Linked DNA regions of Homo sapiens: region 1 is linked to region 2. The links come from fine-mapping of genetic effects on gene expression. A gene starts in region 2. The other region holds a variant in brackets. All regions are shown on one strand. Distances are between the middles of the regions.

Region 1 (8,326 bases), 860 kb before region 2:
CTGGGAACCTAGTTTCTCCCATAATTAACATCTTATATTAGCTGTGTATATTTTATATTTGTCACAATTGATGAATCAATATTGATACTATTGGTTATTGATAATCAACATTGATCAATAACAATATTGATCAATATTGGTTATTAGTTACCAAAGTCCATGCTTTTTTAGATTTTCAAAGTTTTTCCTAATGTCCTCTTTTTTTTTCTTTTCTCTCTTTTTTTTTTTAAGAGACAGGGTCTCACTCTGTCATCCAGGCTGGGGTGCAGTGGTGCCATCATACCTCACTGCAGCCTCCGCCTCCCAGGCTCAAGCAGTCCTCCCACCTCAGCCTCCAGAGTAGCTGGGACTACAGGCACCACCACGTCCAGCTAATCTTTGTAATTTTTGTAGAGACAGAGTTACGCCATGTTGCCCAGGCTGGCCTAATGTCCTTTTCCTTCTGCCCCACAACCCCATCCAGGATCCCAGATGACATTTAGTTATCACATCTCCTGACACTCCTCTGGACTGTGGCAGTCTCCCTGTCTTTCTTGTTTTGATGCCCTTGATAGTTTTGTTTGTTTGTTTGTTTTGAGATGGAGTCTCACTCTGTCACCCAGGCTGGAGAGCAGTGGCACGATCTCGGCTCACTGCAACCTCCGCCTCCCGGGTTCAAGCGATTCTCCTGCCTCAGCCTCCTGATAGCTGGGATTACAGGTGTCCTCCACCATGCCTGCCTAATTTTTGTATTTTTAGTAGAGATGGCGTTTCACCATGTTGTCCAGGCTGGTCTCGAATTCCTGAGCTCAAGTGATCCTCCTGCCTCAGCCTCCCAAAGTGCTGGGATTACAGGCGTGAGCTGCTGCGCCTGGCCCATCCTGTATTTTTTGGAATGACATCACTATACACAGCCTACACAGAGTTATCCTTCATCTTTTTTTTTTTTTTTTTTTTTTTTGAGACAGAGTCTTGCTCTGTGGCCCAGGCTGGAGTGCAGTGGCACGATCTCGGCTCACTGCAAGCTCCGCCTCCTGGGTTCATGCCATTCTCCTGCCTCAGCCTCCTGAGTAGCTGGGACTACAGGCACCTGCCACCACGCCCCGCTATTTTTTTTGTACTTTTAGTAGAGACGGGGTTTCACCATGTTAGCCAGGATGGTCTCGATCTCCTGACCTCGTGATCCGCACGCCTCGGCCTCCCAAAGTGCTGGGATTACAGGCGTGAGCCACCGCACCCGGCCTATCCTTCATCTTCTTGAGGGCAGAACTGTACATAAACTATTTCCAATTCTTCTGCACAAGAAATGTGTCTCTTCTCTCCTGTTTATTTGTTCAGTGACTTATTTATATCCGTATGGACTCATAGACATTTATTTTACATCTTGGGTTATAATTCAATATTTCATTATTTATTTGGTTGCACAAACTGTTCCAGCATTGACATAGAGATCTCTTCTGGTTGACTCAGGTTTTTGTGGGGGTTTTATCTATTTATTTATTTTTAATACTTTTTGCTGCATTTGAGAGTCAACAACTCATCAGAGACCAAATCCCACAGGGTCGCCCTAGAGAGAATTCAACTTACTAACTTATTTCAAAGTTTTTGAAGTCATGTGATGCTGGGGAAAAACCTTCATTCTCCTCAAGCCGTGCAAAAATCTCCAAAAGGCTTAATATAAATTTGATTATCTAAAAGAAGCCCTTCAGCCCTGATGCGTTATAATTTTCTTCCTCTGCTAAAGAAAAAACATGCTGGGCGGGCGCGGTGGCTCATGCCTGTAATCCCAGCACTTTGAGAGGCCGAGGTGGGCAGATCACAAGGTCAGGAGTTCCAGACCAGCCTGGCCAATATGGTGAAACCCCGTCTCTACTAAAAATACAAAAATTAGCCGGGCATGGTAGCGGGCACCTGTAGTCCCAGTTTACTTAGGAGGCTGAGGCAGAAGAATGGCCTGAACCCGGGAGGCGGAGGTTGCCGTGAGCCGAGATCATGCCACTCTACTCCATCCAGCCTGGGCGACAGAGCGAGACTCTGTCTCAAAAGAAAAAAATAAAAGAAAAAGAAAAAACATGCGCTTGTGGTGGCTCACGCCCGTAATCCCAACACTTTGGGAGGCTGAGGTGGGAAGATGGCTTGAGCCCAGGAGTTCAAGAGCAACCTGGGCAACATAGTGAGACCCCATCTCTACAAAAAACCAAAAAACTACAAAAATTAGCCAGCCGTGGTGGTGTGCACCTGTAGTCCCAGCTACTCAGGAGGCTGAGGCAGGAGGATCTCTTGAGCCCAGGAGGTTGAGGCTGCAGTGAGCCATGATCACGCTACTGCACTCCAGCCTGGGCGATACAGTGAGGCTCTGTCTCCAAAAAAATGTATATATTTAGGTCCAGTGATTCTCCAGAACTAAATGTGTTTTGCTTTTGTTCTTGTCTGACTCGCCTGGCTGGACCTGTCTGGGCCACTCCACTGTCCTCTGCCTGAATCTCTGGTGCCCGGCGACTGATGCCTGTTCCTGGATGGGTCCGCAGGCCACTCCCAGAAGAGACGGGGGTGGAACTGCTTGGCAGCCCGGTGGAAGACACATCCTGTAAGTTTCCACGTCCACAGAAGGGCGGAAACAGGCTCAGTGTTTCCGGGTTTCAGCCCTGCCTGGGGCTGTAACTGTAGAAATGTCAGAGGCCACACACCGTGGGTAGAATGTTCTGTCCTGGGGTCTATGGTGGAAGTGGCCGTGGTGGGTGAGAGACACAATGGATGATGGCGCTCTCATGAAGCCAGCACGCTGTGTTGCTGTGTGTCCCTGTGCTAGTCACTCAGCCTCTCTGTGCCCCAATGCCTCATCTACTAAATGTAGGTAGCGAGCTTCTCGCAGAGGGGGCATGTAAGGATTAAATGAGGTGATGCCAAATGCCCTGGAGGCACAAAGTCAGCACAGCCAAGGGTGCACTGGGAGGCTCTGCTATCTGGAGCTCTAAACATATACATTTTAATGTGTAATACCTTATATTAGACCCAAATATATACATTTTTTGGGAGACCGGGTCACACTCTGTCATCCAGGCTGGAGTGCAGTGGCGTGATCATGGCTCACTGCAGCCTCAACCTCCAGGGCTCAAGAGATCCTCCTGCCTCAGCCTTCTGAGTAGCTGGGACTACAGGTGCACACCACCATGGCTGGCTAATTTTGGTAGTTTTTGTAGAAATGGGATCTAGCTATGTTGCCCAGGCTGCTCTTGAACTCCTGGGCTCAAGCCATCTTCTTGCCTCAGCCTCCCAAAGTGCTGGGATTACGGGCGTGAGCCACCACGCCTGGCATGTTTTTTCTTCAGCAGAGGAAAAAAATCATAATGTATCAGGCTCTGAAGCCCCAGATCCCGGGGATGGGAGTCCTGGGCGGCCAGAGGAGAGTTTTAGCCGTAACCTGGCGATTGCAACGTGCCTCCGGAGGCAGGGAAAGGGCCCAGGTTGGCACCGTGGGGAGAGGTGGGGTCTGGGGAGGACCTGGCAGCCAGCCCCACTTAACGACATTCAGTTAAGCAGAATATGGAAAATAAACCTGTGAGGGCCAAACAAAATTTTTTTGGAGACAGAGCCTCACTGTATCGCCCAGGCTGGAGTGCAGTAGCGTGATCATGGCTCACTGCAGCCTCAACCTCCTGGGCTCAAGAGATCCTCCTGCCTCAGCCTCCTGAGTAGCTGGGACTACAGGTACACACCACCATGGCTGGTTAATTTTTGTAGTTTTTTGTAGAGATGGGGTCTCACTATGTTGCCCAGGCTGCTCTTGAACTCCTGGGCTCAAGCCATCTTCCCACCTTGGCCTCCCAAAGTGTTGGGATTACGGGCGTGAGCCACTGCACCCGGCCGCCTGTCTCTATTTAAAAAGAAAAAAAAAAAAGGCAGGTCACCGTGGCTCACGCCTGTAATCCCAGCACTTTGGGAGGCCGAGGCGGGCAGATCACGAGGTCAGGAGTTTGAGACCAACCTGGCCAACATGGTGAAGCCCCGTCTCTACTAAAGATA[C/CA]AAAAAAAAAAAAAAAAAAAAATTAGCCGGGCATTGTGGCACTTGCCTGTAATCCCAGTCACTCAGGAGGCTGAGGCATGAGGATCGCTTGAACCCAGGAGACGGAGGTTGCAGCAAGCTGAGATTGTGCCATTGCACTCCAGCCTGGGTGACAAGGCGAGACTCTGTCTAAACAAAACAAAACAAAAAAAGATTAGTCGGGCTTGGTGGCGCATGCCTGTAATCCCAGCTACTTGGGAGGCTGAGGTGGGAGAATCACTTGAACCTGGGAGGCGGAGGTTGCAGTGAGCTGAGATCCTACCATTGTACTCCAGCCTGGGTAACGGAGTGAGACTCCATCTCAAAAAAATAAATACATAAATAAAACAAAATAAATTAGCAGACTTTGGATTAAAGCAGGCAGCCATCTGTGATGTGGGTGGGCCTCATCTAATCAGTTGAAGGTTTTAAGAGAAACAGACTGAGGTTCCCCCAGGCAGAGACAATTCTGCCTGCGGACGGTTTTGCAACATCAACTCTTCCCTAGGCGTCCCGCCTGCTGGCCTGCCCTGCCGATTGAGGACTTGTCAGTCTCTGTGATCACACGAGCTAATTCCTTAAAATAAATTTCTCCCTCTCTCTTTTTTTCCATACATATAGGAAAAAAATATGTATACACACACACACACACACACACACGTCCTATTGGATTTGTTTCCCTGGAGCACTCTGATTAAAATAGGAGACTATCCTGGATCCTGTATTATCCAGGTGGCCTGACATCGTTACAGGATCCTCATGAGTGGAGACAGGAGGGTGAGAGTCAGAGAAAGCCTAGAAGAAGATGGGCTGCTTTCACAATTTGTCTGCACAAGAGATATGTCTCTTCTCCTTTATTTATTTATTTATTTATTTTTGAGATAGAGTTTCACTCTGTCACCCAGGCTGGAGTGCAATGGTACGATCTTGGCTCACTGTAACCTCCGCCTCCTGGGCTCAAGTGATTCTCCTGCCTCAGACTCCCAAGCAGCTGGGATTACAGGCGCCACCACTGTGCCCGGCTAATTTTTATATTTTTAGTAGAGATGGGGTTTCGCCATGTTGGCCAGGCTGGTCTCGAACTCCTGACCTCAGGTGATCTGCCCGCCTCGGCCTCCAAAGTGCTGGGATTACAGGCGTGAGCCACCGCACCCGGCCCAAAGTCAGGCTTTGAACTCATGTCTGCCCAATGTCCAAGCATCCATCCCCTTAATCTCTGAGGCTTGCCCACAGGACAGAGGTTATAACATTCACCCCTGTCAGGATGATGTCGGTTTAATTCTGCCCACCCCCGCCAATGGCATGGATACAGAAGGGAGCCCACCCTCTCTTCCCATTCCTGCATGATGAAACAGCTTCCACCAGGTAGGAAAATGGGGGGAAGGTAAAAGAGAGAAAGCAAAGATGTTTTCCATTTTTCTCATTTCCCTGCAGCTCCTCCCAACACGCTAAATTTCAACGGAGCGCATCGTAAGAGGAAGACGCTGGTGGCCCCAGAGATCAACATTTCTCTGGATCAGAGTGAGGGGTCCCTGCTGTCCGATGACTTCTTGGATACCCCTGATGACCTGGATATTAACGTGGATGACATCGAGACCCCCGATGAGACCGACTCGCTGGAGTTCCTGGGGAATGGCAACGAACTGGAGTGGGAAGGTAAAGTTCAGGGTCTCTCTGGGGCCTGCTGGAGCCCACCCCCCCCACCCCACCTTTCCGTCTCTGGATTCCCATAGGCTCAGAGAGTCACAAGTGGGGCAGGGGCTCTAAGCAGTCTAGCCTTAAACCCAGGAGATCAAGACTGCAGTGAGACGTGATCATGCCACTGCACTCCAGCCTGGACAACAGAGTGAGACCCTGTCTCAAAAATAAAATTTTTAAAAAAGAGAGAGGTGGCTGGGCGCAGTGGCTCATGCCTGTAATCCTAGCACTTTGGGAGGCCGAGGCGGGCAGATCACGAGGTCAGGAGATCGAGACCATCCTGGCTGACACAGTGAAACCCCGTCTCTACTAAAATACAAAAAATTAGCCAGGCATGGTGGCGGGCACCTGAAGTCCCAGCTACTCAGGAGGCTGAGGCAGGAGAACGGTGTGAACCCAGGAGGCCGAGCTTGCGGTGAGCCAAGATTGTGCCACTGCACTCCAGCCTGGGCGACAGAGCGAGACTCCGTCTCAAAAAAAAAAAAAAAGAGAGAGAGAGGTTGGTGAATGGGTACCAACATACAGTTAGACAGAAGGAATAAGTTCTATTGTTCGATAGCAGAATAGGAGGGGTGCCAGGAGGAGGGTCCATCCGCTCCTGCGACTGTTTTTTTTTTTTTTTTGAGACAGAGTCTCACTCTGTTGCCCAGGCTGGAGTGCAGTGGTGTGATCTCAGCTCACTGCATCCTCCACCTCCCGGGTTCAAGCGATTCTTTTGCCTCAGCCTCCCGAGTAGCTGGGATTACAGGCATGCACTACCACTTCCGGCTGATGTTTATATTTTTAGTAGAGATGGGGTTTTCCCATGTTGCCCAGGCTGGTCTCAAACTCCTGACTTCAAGTGATACACCCACCTCGGCCTCCCAAAGTGCTGGGATCACAGGTGTGAGCCACGGCGCCCAGCCTGCCCCTGCAATTTGATGCATATTTTTCTTGTGGGCTTGTGAATTTTTCTGCAGAACGTGGCTTTCATCAGAATCTCAAAGGCGACCAAGATCCCAACAAACTGCCCTCGATGTATGCAACAAATACTTTTTGACCATTTACTCCAGGGCAAGTCCTGATTCAGGCGTGGGGTATATGGCAGGGCTATGATAAGAAGAGATGGTCCTGGTCCCTACCTGCACACACAGATCATCAGAAAGACAGACCACGAAAGGCCAGGCGCAGTGACTCACGCCTGTAATCCCAGCACTTTGGGAGGCTGAGGTGGGCAGATCACCTGAGGTCAGGAGTTTGAGACCAGCCTGGCCAACATGGTGAAGCTCCATCTCTACTAAAAATACAGAAATTAGCCGGGCATGGTGGCGTGCGTAGTCCCAGCTACTCGGGAGGCTGAGGCAGGAGAATCGCTTGAACTCTGGAGGCAGAGGCTGCAGTGAGCAGAGATCGCACCACTCCACTCCAGCCTGGGCGATGGAACAAGACTCTCTCAAAAAAAAAAAAGAAAGAAAAAAAAAAATTAAGGACAATGTAGTGGCTCATTCCTGTAATCCCAGAGCTTCGGGAGGCCAGGGTAGGAGGATCGCTTAAGGCCAGGAGTTTGAGACCAGCCTGGGCAACATATTGAAACCCCATCTCTACAAAAATATAAAAATTAGCTGGGTGTGGTGGTGCACAACTGTAGTCCCAGGTATCTGGGAGGCTGAGGCAGGAGGACTGCTCTCTGTGTGCCAGGCTCCTGGGAGAGTAAAAACCAAGCATGCATGCCCCGAGTATCCTCGTGGTTTGATGAAGCAGATGCATTCACCAGCTCTGAGAAGCTCCAGGACACAGGTCCTTAACCAACAGAGTGCCCTGGGAGGCCAGCAAAGGGAATGTCCAGAAAGGCTTCCTGGAGGAGGCGGCATTTGAGCCAGGCCTTGAAAGGGGAGTAGGAGAGGAAAATGGGTCAGCAGGGCAGCCAGGTGGGGAGAAGCGAAGGACTTGTGGGTCCCGGCAGCGAGGGAGGTGGGAGAGGGGAAGGAAGGCTGAGCAGGAGGGCAGGAGATATCCGGACTCTGGCGTCCATGCGACTCTCCGCCACCTGCTTCTAGACGACACCCCCGTGGCCACCGCCAAGAACATGCCCGGGGACAGCGCGGATCTATTTGGGGACGGCACGACGGAGGACGGCAGCGCCGCCAACGGGCGCCTGTGGCGGACAGTGATCATCGGGGAGCAAGAGCACCGTATAGACCTGCACATGATCCGGCCTTACATGAAAGTGGTCACCCACGGAGGTGAGACCCGCCCCCCGGTGCCCCCTTGGGGCTCCAGCCCGGCCCACTGGGCAACAGGGGGTTCGTCAGTGCCCCTCTCTGATGCACGGGGATGTTAAGCCGTCAACTCGCTTCGGGTGGACGGACTGTGGGCAAGGCGTGCATGGTCAGGGAGGCGCACTGGGGGCCCCTGATGGTCGCTGTCACTCCTCAGCGAAGGCAGAGACTGGCTAAGGGGTCGCCGGCTGCTGTGGCTCGGAGCCATGCCCTCCCGAGCGTGTGGGCACCGGGACGTGGTGGGTGGTGCGCGGGAGGCAGCTCAGGGCTGGGAGAGGACTCTGACGTTGCCGATCGGCTGCCTCTCCTCAGGGTACTACGGCGAAGGCCTCAACGCCATCATCGTCTTC
Region 2 (8,326 bases):
TTCCTTAATCCTCAGGGCTCCAGAAATTGTCCTTAGAAGAAAGAACAACAGACCCGCTGAGGTCACCATCTGTGCAGTCTTGATTTGTAAATGCTCATGAGGGTGGCAGGAAAGAGGTCTCTATAGTAACGGCTGAGGAAGGGGCTGCGTGTGTGTGTGTGTGTGTGTGTGTGTGTGTGTGTGTGTGTGTACGCGCACATACAGGGAGGAGGAATCACCCAAGGCCCTTATTCCTAGACTTTTCTTTTCTACCCTGATGAGCTATTAATTAATACTCATTGCTGGCTTGTTATTCCCAGAGATAATTAGCTACTGTTCCTAACTGGAGTCGTGGGGCCATTTTCTAAATAGATTCGTTCGCCTCTGCCCACCCACACCTGTCTATCTCCCGGGACACAAGGAAATGTTACAGAACACAGAGACCCAGAGAGGAGAAAAACTGAACAAAGGGGTCTCTCTGGGAAGCTCAGATTCCAAGTGAATAGACAAGAGCAGAGCCTGAATGAGCAAGGGCCCAGTGCACAGAAAGTTATTATAAAAATGCCAGCTATAGCTGAGAGTGGTGGCTCACGCCTGTAATCCCAACACTTTGGGAGGCCAAGGCAGGAGGATCACTTGAGGTCAGGAGTTCGAGACGAGCCTGGCCAACGTGGTGAAACCCCATCTCTACTAAAATACAATCGCTCTGGAAAAGTTTGACAGTTTCTTATGAAGTTAAATATACACTTCCCATATGACCCAGCCGTCACCCTCCTAGGTGTTACCCTGGAGATGTGAAAATTTATCGCCCACATGAAAGCCTGCATGAAAATATTTATAGCAGTTTTATTCCTAATAATCTCCAAACACAGAAGGTGTTCCAGAACCTAATGTCCTTGGACTGATGAATAGCTAAACAGGCCATAGTTCATCCACATGATGGAATACTACTTAATAATAAAAAGGAACTAACTCCGGGTTCACACAACAGCATGAATGGCTCTCCAGTGTATTCTACTGAGGAAAGGAAGCCAGGCCAGGCGTGGTGGCTCACACCTGTAATCCCAGCAATTTGGGAGACCGAGGTGGGTGGATCGCTTGAGGTCAGGAGTTCAACACCAGCCTGGCCAACATAGTGAAAACCCATCTCTACTAAAAATACAAGAATTAGCTGGGTGTGGTGGCGGACACCTGTAATCCCAGCTACTCGGGAGGCTGAGGCAGGAGAATCGCTTGAATCCGGGAGGCAGAAGTCGCAGTGAGTCGAGATCATGCCACTGCACTCCAGCATGGGCAACAGAGTGAGATTTCATCTCTAAAATAAAATAAAATAATAAAAAATAAAAATAAAAAGTAGCAAACGTGCATGTGGGCGGAGAATGTACACACTTATATATGCATGTACTTCTGGAAGGGCACAGGAAATGAAATGAACAATTGATAAGAGATTAAACCTTGGGGTTGGCAGACTGGGGTCCCCAACTCCCACACCCTCTCCCTGTGGTCCTTGGGCAAGCCCCTTCCCCTCTCTAGCCATCTATAAAACATGCATATCAGCCAGGCATGATAGCTCATGCCTGGAATTTCAGCACTTTGGGAGGCCAAGGTGGGAGGATTGCTTGAGCCCAGGAGTTCAAGACCAACCTGGGCAACATAGGGTGACCCTGTTTCTACAAATAATTTTTAAAATTAGCTGGGCATAGCGGTGCACACCTACAGAAGGCTGAAGTAGGAGGATTGCCTGAGCCAGGAGGCAGAGACTGCAGTGAGCCATGATTGCACTACTGCACTCCAGCCTGGGTCACAGACTAAGACTCTGTCTTAAAAAAAAAAAGGTCTTTCTTCCTTTTTTTTTTTTTTTTTTTTTTTTTTTGAGAAGGAGTCTTGCTCTGTTGCCCAGGCTGGAGTGCAGTGGCACGATCTTGGCTCACTGCAACCTCCTTCTCCCGGGTTCAAGTGATTCTCCTGCCCGAGCCTCCCAAGTAGCTGGGATTACAGGCACCCGCCACTATGCCCAGCTAATTTTTTGTATTTTTAGTAGAGACGAGGTTTCACCATGTTGACCAGGCTGGTCTCGACCTCCTGACCTCGTGATTTGCCCGCTTTGGCCTCCCAAAGTGCTGGGATTACAGGCATGAGCCACTGTGCCCAGTCAAAAGGCCTGCTTTCCTTTCTCTCTCTCTCTCTCTCTCTCTCTCTCTCTCTCTCTCTCTCTCTCTCTCTCTGTCTATTTTGAGATGGAGTTTTGCTCTTGTTGCCCAGGCTGGAGTACAATGGTGCAATCTTGGCTCATTGCAACTTCAAACTCCTGGGTTCAAGCGATTCTCCTGCCTCAGCCTCCTGAGTAGTTGGGATTACAGGCATGCACCACCATGCCCAGCTAATTTTTGTATTTTTAGTAGAGATGGGGTTTCAACATATTGTCCAGTCTGGTCTCAAACTCCTGACCTCAGGTGATCCACTTGCCTTGGCCTCCCAGAGTGCTGGGATTACAGGCATCCAGCCAAAAAGAACTTTCTTTCTTTTTCTTTCTTTCTTTCCTTCTTTCTTTTTCTTTCTTTCTTTCTTTCTTTCTTTCTTTCTTTCTTTCTTTCTTTCTTTCTTTCTTCTTTCTTTCTTCTTTCTTTCTTTTTCTTTCTTTTTTCTCTCTTTCTCTTTCTCCTTCCTTCCTTTCTTTGTTCTTCTTCTTCTTTTTTTTTAACAGAGTTTTGCTCTTATTGCCTAGGCTGGAGTGCAGTGGCACAATCTTGGCTCACTGCAACCCCCACCTCCTGGGTTCAAGCGATTATCTTGCCTCAGCCTCCCAAGTAGCTGGGATTAGAGGCACGTGCCACCATGCCGGCTAATTTTGTATTTTTAGTAGAGTCAGGGTTTCTCCATGTTGGTCACGCTGTTCTCAAACTCCCGACCTCAGGTGATCCACCCACCTCTGCTTTCCAAAGTGCTGGGATTACAGGCGTGAGCCACCATGTCCGGCCCTTTTTCAATTTTTTTATTATTTTTATTTTTTTTATACAAGGTCTCGCTCTGTCACCCAGGCTGGAGTGCAGTGGCATGATCTTGGCTTACTGCAACCCCTGCCTCCCGGGTTCAAGCGATTCTCCTGCCTCAGCCTCTGTAGTAGCTGGGACTACAGGCACCCGCCACCGCACTCGGCTAATTTTTGTATTTTTAGTAGAGACGAGGTGTCACCATATTGGCCAAGCTGGTCTCGAACTCCTGACCTCAGGTCATCCACCCGCCTCGGCCTCCCAAAGTGCTGGAATTACAGGGGTGAGTCAACGCACCTGGCTGGGATCTATCTCATGGGGCTGCCCTGAGGCCTTCAGATCACTCAGCAGGTAGAATGTCTGGCACTGACCCTGGCACAGAGTAAAAGCTTAGGGAAGGGGAGAGAGAAAGGGTGGCAGGTCTTCCTGTGCAACCTGAGGAACTTCACTTTTGTCCTGGCCTGAATGATCAGGTCCTGTACAGCTGTCCCTGATTTATATCCTAACTGTCCCTTCTATGCTTGCTCACCCCCCAGGGCCTGTTCTTTCCCCCACCCCCACCAGGGCCCTTACACTGACTGTTCCTTCAACCCAATGCCCATACCAACATGTGAGCAGAGTTTTCATGTCTTTACCCTCCCTAAAGGCAAGGTTGGTTGCTGAATTCATGTATGTATCTCCAGTGCCTAGTACAACAAGTTTGTTGAGCAAATAAATGGGTGGAATAGATCAGGAAAGAATAACAGCTGCATTATTAGAAAACTTACCGTAAACAGACATGATTGCTAGTGCCATGCCAAGCCATATTGGGACCTCAGGCAAAAGGAAAAGTCAGAAAGGCTGGTTCTGCCTTTATTTACATTTTTGATATTTTGTTCATTGTGGATTTTGGCATACATTTTGATTTCTTAAAACATTGCATCGATTTTTTTTTGAGACAGGGTCTTGCTCTGTCACCTAGGCTGGAGTGCAGTGGTGCAATCATAACTCACTGCAGCTTCGACCTCCTGGCCTCAAGTGATCCTCTCACCTCAGCCTCCCAAGTAGCTGAGACCACAGGTGCCATTCTCTCTCTCTCTCTCTCTCTCTCTCTCTGTTTCTCTCTTTCTCTCTCCCTCTCTCCCTCTTTCTCTCTCAGAAACGGGGTCTCACTATGTTGCCCAGGCTCATCTTGAAATCCTGGCCTCAAGTGATCCTCCCACCTTGGCCTCCCAAAGTGCTCAGATTACAAGCATGAGCCATTGCACCTGGCCTGAAATATTATTTACCTTGATTATTGAGTTTTTTGGTGCCCCTTTAAGTTTTGCACCTGAGGCTGGTGCCTCACCCAACTCACATTAGCCCCTGCCCTGATTATTTCTAACATGCAATCCACACCATATCATTAGTTCCTCAGCAAATACTCTACTATTATCACTACTTCACAGTTGCAAAAACTGAGGCACAACTGTGCCCAATGTCCCAAAGGAAGGAGAAGAAAAATCTGAACTTGAACCCCAGTTTCTTCGTTTTTTGGTTCAGAGCCTGCCCAGTATAGCACTACAATAAGCTGAATTTTATAAATTGGGTTTTGAGTTAAGGAATCAAAAGCTTCAGGCTTAAGTCCCACCTCTGCCCCAGAGTCTTCTGAGCCCTCCATTTTCACAGACGTCAGTTGCCCTAGGTGGAACTGGACTTTAATATTCTCCACATCCCTTATTTTTTCCCAAAACAGTTTACCAGCTTTTTCTTTCCTGAACCAGGAGCAATAGCAAAAATTGGGAATGGGAAGAAACAGGTACCAGCCAGGACACCTGAACGAACTTGGAGCTCAGGAACCCAGGAGGGGATTGGAGAGAGTGGGGAGACTCCATGGTCCACAATGAATGCTCCTTCCCCATCCGAAAAAATCCCCTAGCCCAGTTTTTGGGCAGATGCCAGACTTTTATTCTGAAGCGTGGGCCACAACCTATGAGGTAATCTTTGGAGCTTCATTCTGAGGCGGAATCCCATTGGCCAGTTGGGGAAGCCCCTCCCAGGATTCCTGGCGCTCCGCCTTCCCTGAAGCCTATAAAAGCGCAGGTCCCCGCCTCGGCAGCCACGGGACACCTGCATCTGCCAACAAGACTGGAAGCAGGTGAGGCACACAGAGGGGGAGGCCCGCAGCTGCGTGGGAGGAGGGGTGGTCTGAGGGACGTGGGATGCCGGGAATGAGGCTGGTTTGCAGGTTGGCGCATGGACATTTTCCCAGAAAGGGACAGAGACGGCGAAGTTTGACGGTCTGGAAAGCAGAGACCAGCAGGGCTGACTGCTTGGGAGGTAAGTTCTGGGGACATGGTACAGGGTGAGGAGCAGGTATCAGTGCTAGTTGCGACCCCTCTGTGTCTCCCCCCCGCCACCCCATTGCCATTCTGAAGCTCCCCAGGAAGAAGCTAGGAGGGGAAATAAATTGAGTGGGGGTGGGGTTTCCCAAGAATCGGAGGAACCGAGAACGAAGAGGGGTGGGGGAACGGGGAAAGAGAGAGGAAAATCAAGTTTTCTTCAGCACGAGGGACAGCTCTCCACCGACCGAAGGAGGAGAATGCTATTTATTTCAGCACCAAATATCCGGACAGCGCCTCTCGGGAGGTCCGAGAAGAGAACCGCGATCTGTTTCAGCACCGGGGCTCAGGACAGTTCCCAGCGGGCTCCGTTTCGTCTCCAGAACCCTGGACAGCTCCTCCAGGTAACGGGAGAGCCCTTTGACCCTGATTTTGCAGGGGGAGGACGAGAGAGGGTGGTCTGAGGTGCCTGGCATTTCTGGAGACCTGCACCTCATGTAATGGATTTTTAAACAAAGTATTTTCCAGATAAGCACACACAGAAGTCTGCAATTTTCTTTTTTTTTCGAGACGGAGTCTTGCTCTGTCGCCCAGGCTGGAGTGCAGTGGCACGATCTCGGCTCACTGCAACCTCTGCCTCCTGGGTTCAAGGGATTCTCCTGCCTCAGCCTCCCGAGTATCTGGGATTACAGGCACATGCCACCACTCCCGGCTAATTTTTGTATTCTTAGTAGAGACGGGGTTTCACCATGTTGGCCAGGCTGGTCTCAAACTCTTGACCTCTTCATCCGTCCACCTCAGCCTCCCAAAGTGCTAGGATTACAGGCGTGAGTCACTGCGCCTGGCCCAAGTCCGGAATTTTCAACAGGTAAGATACCTCACTGGGGTAACAGCTGCCTGCTAAGATGACATTATGGTGTCTCTTCCAGACTTCGGTGAGAAACCTTGTGCCAAGCATTTTACATACATCATATCATGCCATCTTCAACCCTAGGACATGGGTGTTACTGTGCCCATGTGACATTTGGGGAACCCAAGGCCCTGAGAAAGGCAGAAAAATAACCCACGCAGGGACTCTCAGCCCACAAGTGAAGCTGTAAGTCAACCCCACCAGTCCAACTCCAAATCCCATGTCTCTGACGTGCCTGGGTGGGAGGTGGGCCCTTGGAGATCAGACCCTGCTTCTCTCCAGGAGAACCGGGAATGGAAAACAGGGAGGCAGCACAGAGGCAGGAAACTCAGGTGTCATAGCTTGGCTCAGGTGAGAAGGAGGAGCTGGGCAGGGGTCTCAGACATGGGGCAGAGGGTGGTGAAGAAGATTAGAGTGGCTGTGGTCTAGTGCTGTGTGGAAGACTAGTGATTTTGTTGTTCTGATGTACTACGACAACAAGTCACAGCCGGCCTCATAGCGCAGACTCCCTTCGACCTTCGCCTTCAATGGGCTGGCCAGTGGGGGAGAACCGGGGAGGTCGGGGAAGAATCGCTTCCACTCGGAGTGGGGGGGCTGGCTCACTCCAGGCGATACAGGCACAGGCAAAGGAGGGAAGCAAACAAGGACATACATCCTGTGCTCATACAGCCATGCACCATGTATGGGGTTTGTCACATCACTCGTACGCCCCCACAAGCCTGGAGATAGAACATACCTGACTCTAAACCCAAGACCTCTAACCACCTTATGGCGCTTTCCTGGGAGACCCAATGAGGGAATGACATTTAAAGCCCTCCCTAGACCAGAGTTCTCAGGGTACTTTTCTATTAAAAAAAAAATTATTATTTTTTTGGCCGGGTGGCTCACGCCTGTCATCCCAGCACTTTGGGAGGCCAAGGCAGGTGGACCACTTGAGGCCAGGAGTTCAAGACCAGCCTGGACAACATGGTGAAACTCCATTTCTCCTAAAAATACAAAAATTAGCTGGGCGTTGTGGCACACACCTGTAGTCCCAGCTACTCGGGAGGCTGAGGCATGGGAATCCCTTGAACCCAGGAGGCAGAGGCTGCATGACCCAAGATTGCACCACTGCACTCCAGCCTGGGCAACAGAGAGAGATTCTGTCTCAAAAAACATTTTTTTTTTCTTTTTTGTAAAGACATGGTCTCCTGCCTCAGCCTCTCAAAGTGCCAAGATTACAGGTGTGAGCCACCGAACCCAGCCTAAGGATACTTTTCAATAAAAGTTCCAGAAGTGGGCTGGGTGTGGGAGCTCATACCTGTAATCCTAACATTTTGGGAGGATGAGATGGGAGGATTGCTTGAGTACAGGAGTTTGAGACCAGCCTGGGCAATATAGTGAGACCCCGTGAGTTGACACATGCCTGTAGTCCCAACTACTTAGGAGGTGGGAGGAACACTTGAGCCTGGGAGATCAAGGCTGCAGTGAGCCATGACTGCACCACTGCACTCCAGACTGGGCAACAGAACAACACCCTGTTTCAAAAAAAAAGTTTCAGAAAAGATTCCTTTCCTGTCTGCTACCCATCAGTGTCATGGGCCAATCATAGGACAAGTGTGAACTTGTGCCCAGTGGTGACTTATGACATCATAAAGGCTCACCACCTTTGCCAGACATGGTGGCTCACACTTGTAATCCCAGCACTTTGGGAGGCCAAGGTGGGAGGATAGCTTGAGCTCAGGAGTTCGAGACCAGCCTGGGCAACATAGCAAGACCTCATCTCAGTAAAAAATAATAAATAAATAAATAAATATATAAGACTCACTCCCAATTCTCTGCAACACCCTAATCAAGTGAAAAACTGCACATGGTTACCTGTTCTCCAGCCTCAGGGCTTTTGCCTCTGCTGTTCCTGCAGCTTGGAATGCACTCCCTCCACCTCCAACCAGAGCTCCCCACAACTGACCCTGCCTTCTTCTGCAAGCTCCATTTCATCAAGGGAAACGATCCTTATTGCCTCACCATTTCCCACGTGAAGTCTGTATTGACATTCTCATAGACCTGGGATATTGTGTCTGCAGCACATAGTCCAATTATTTTCATGTTATCTACTGACAGGTCTATTTGTCTCCCTGTTACACTGTGAGCTCCGTGAGGGCAGAAAC

The links. PIP is the estimated chance that this variant, and not a neighbour inherited with it, causes the effect.
Region 1: its variant is fine-mapped to the expression of MIR7-3HG in prefrontal cortex (CommonMind, PIP 0.95).

The regions. Positions count from the first base shown.
Region 1 is chr19:3,899,980-3,908,305 of GRCh38, forward strand. It overlaps ATCAY (ATCAY kinesin light chain interacting caytaxin), which reads left to right. Exons shown (of 13, transcript NM_033064.5): 3 at 2,508-2,566; 4 at 5,455-5,676; 5 at 7,755-7,940; 6 at 8,289-8,326. Among named protein-coding and RNA genes, the nearest start is that of ATCAY, 23 kb to the left of the region's middle. The variant C/CA (reference allele first, on the strand shown) is at 4,003.
Region 2 is chr19:4,764,085-4,772,410 of GRCh38, forward strand. It overlaps MIR7-3HG (MIR7-3 host gene), which reads left to right and starts at 5,021. Exons shown (of 3, transcript NR_027148.1): 1 at 5,021-5,267; 2 at 5,546-5,673; 3 at 8,080-8,326. It overlaps MIR7-3 (microRNA 7-3), which reads left to right and starts at 6,586; the gene lies at 6,586-6,695. RefSeq lists a silencer at 5,453-5,747.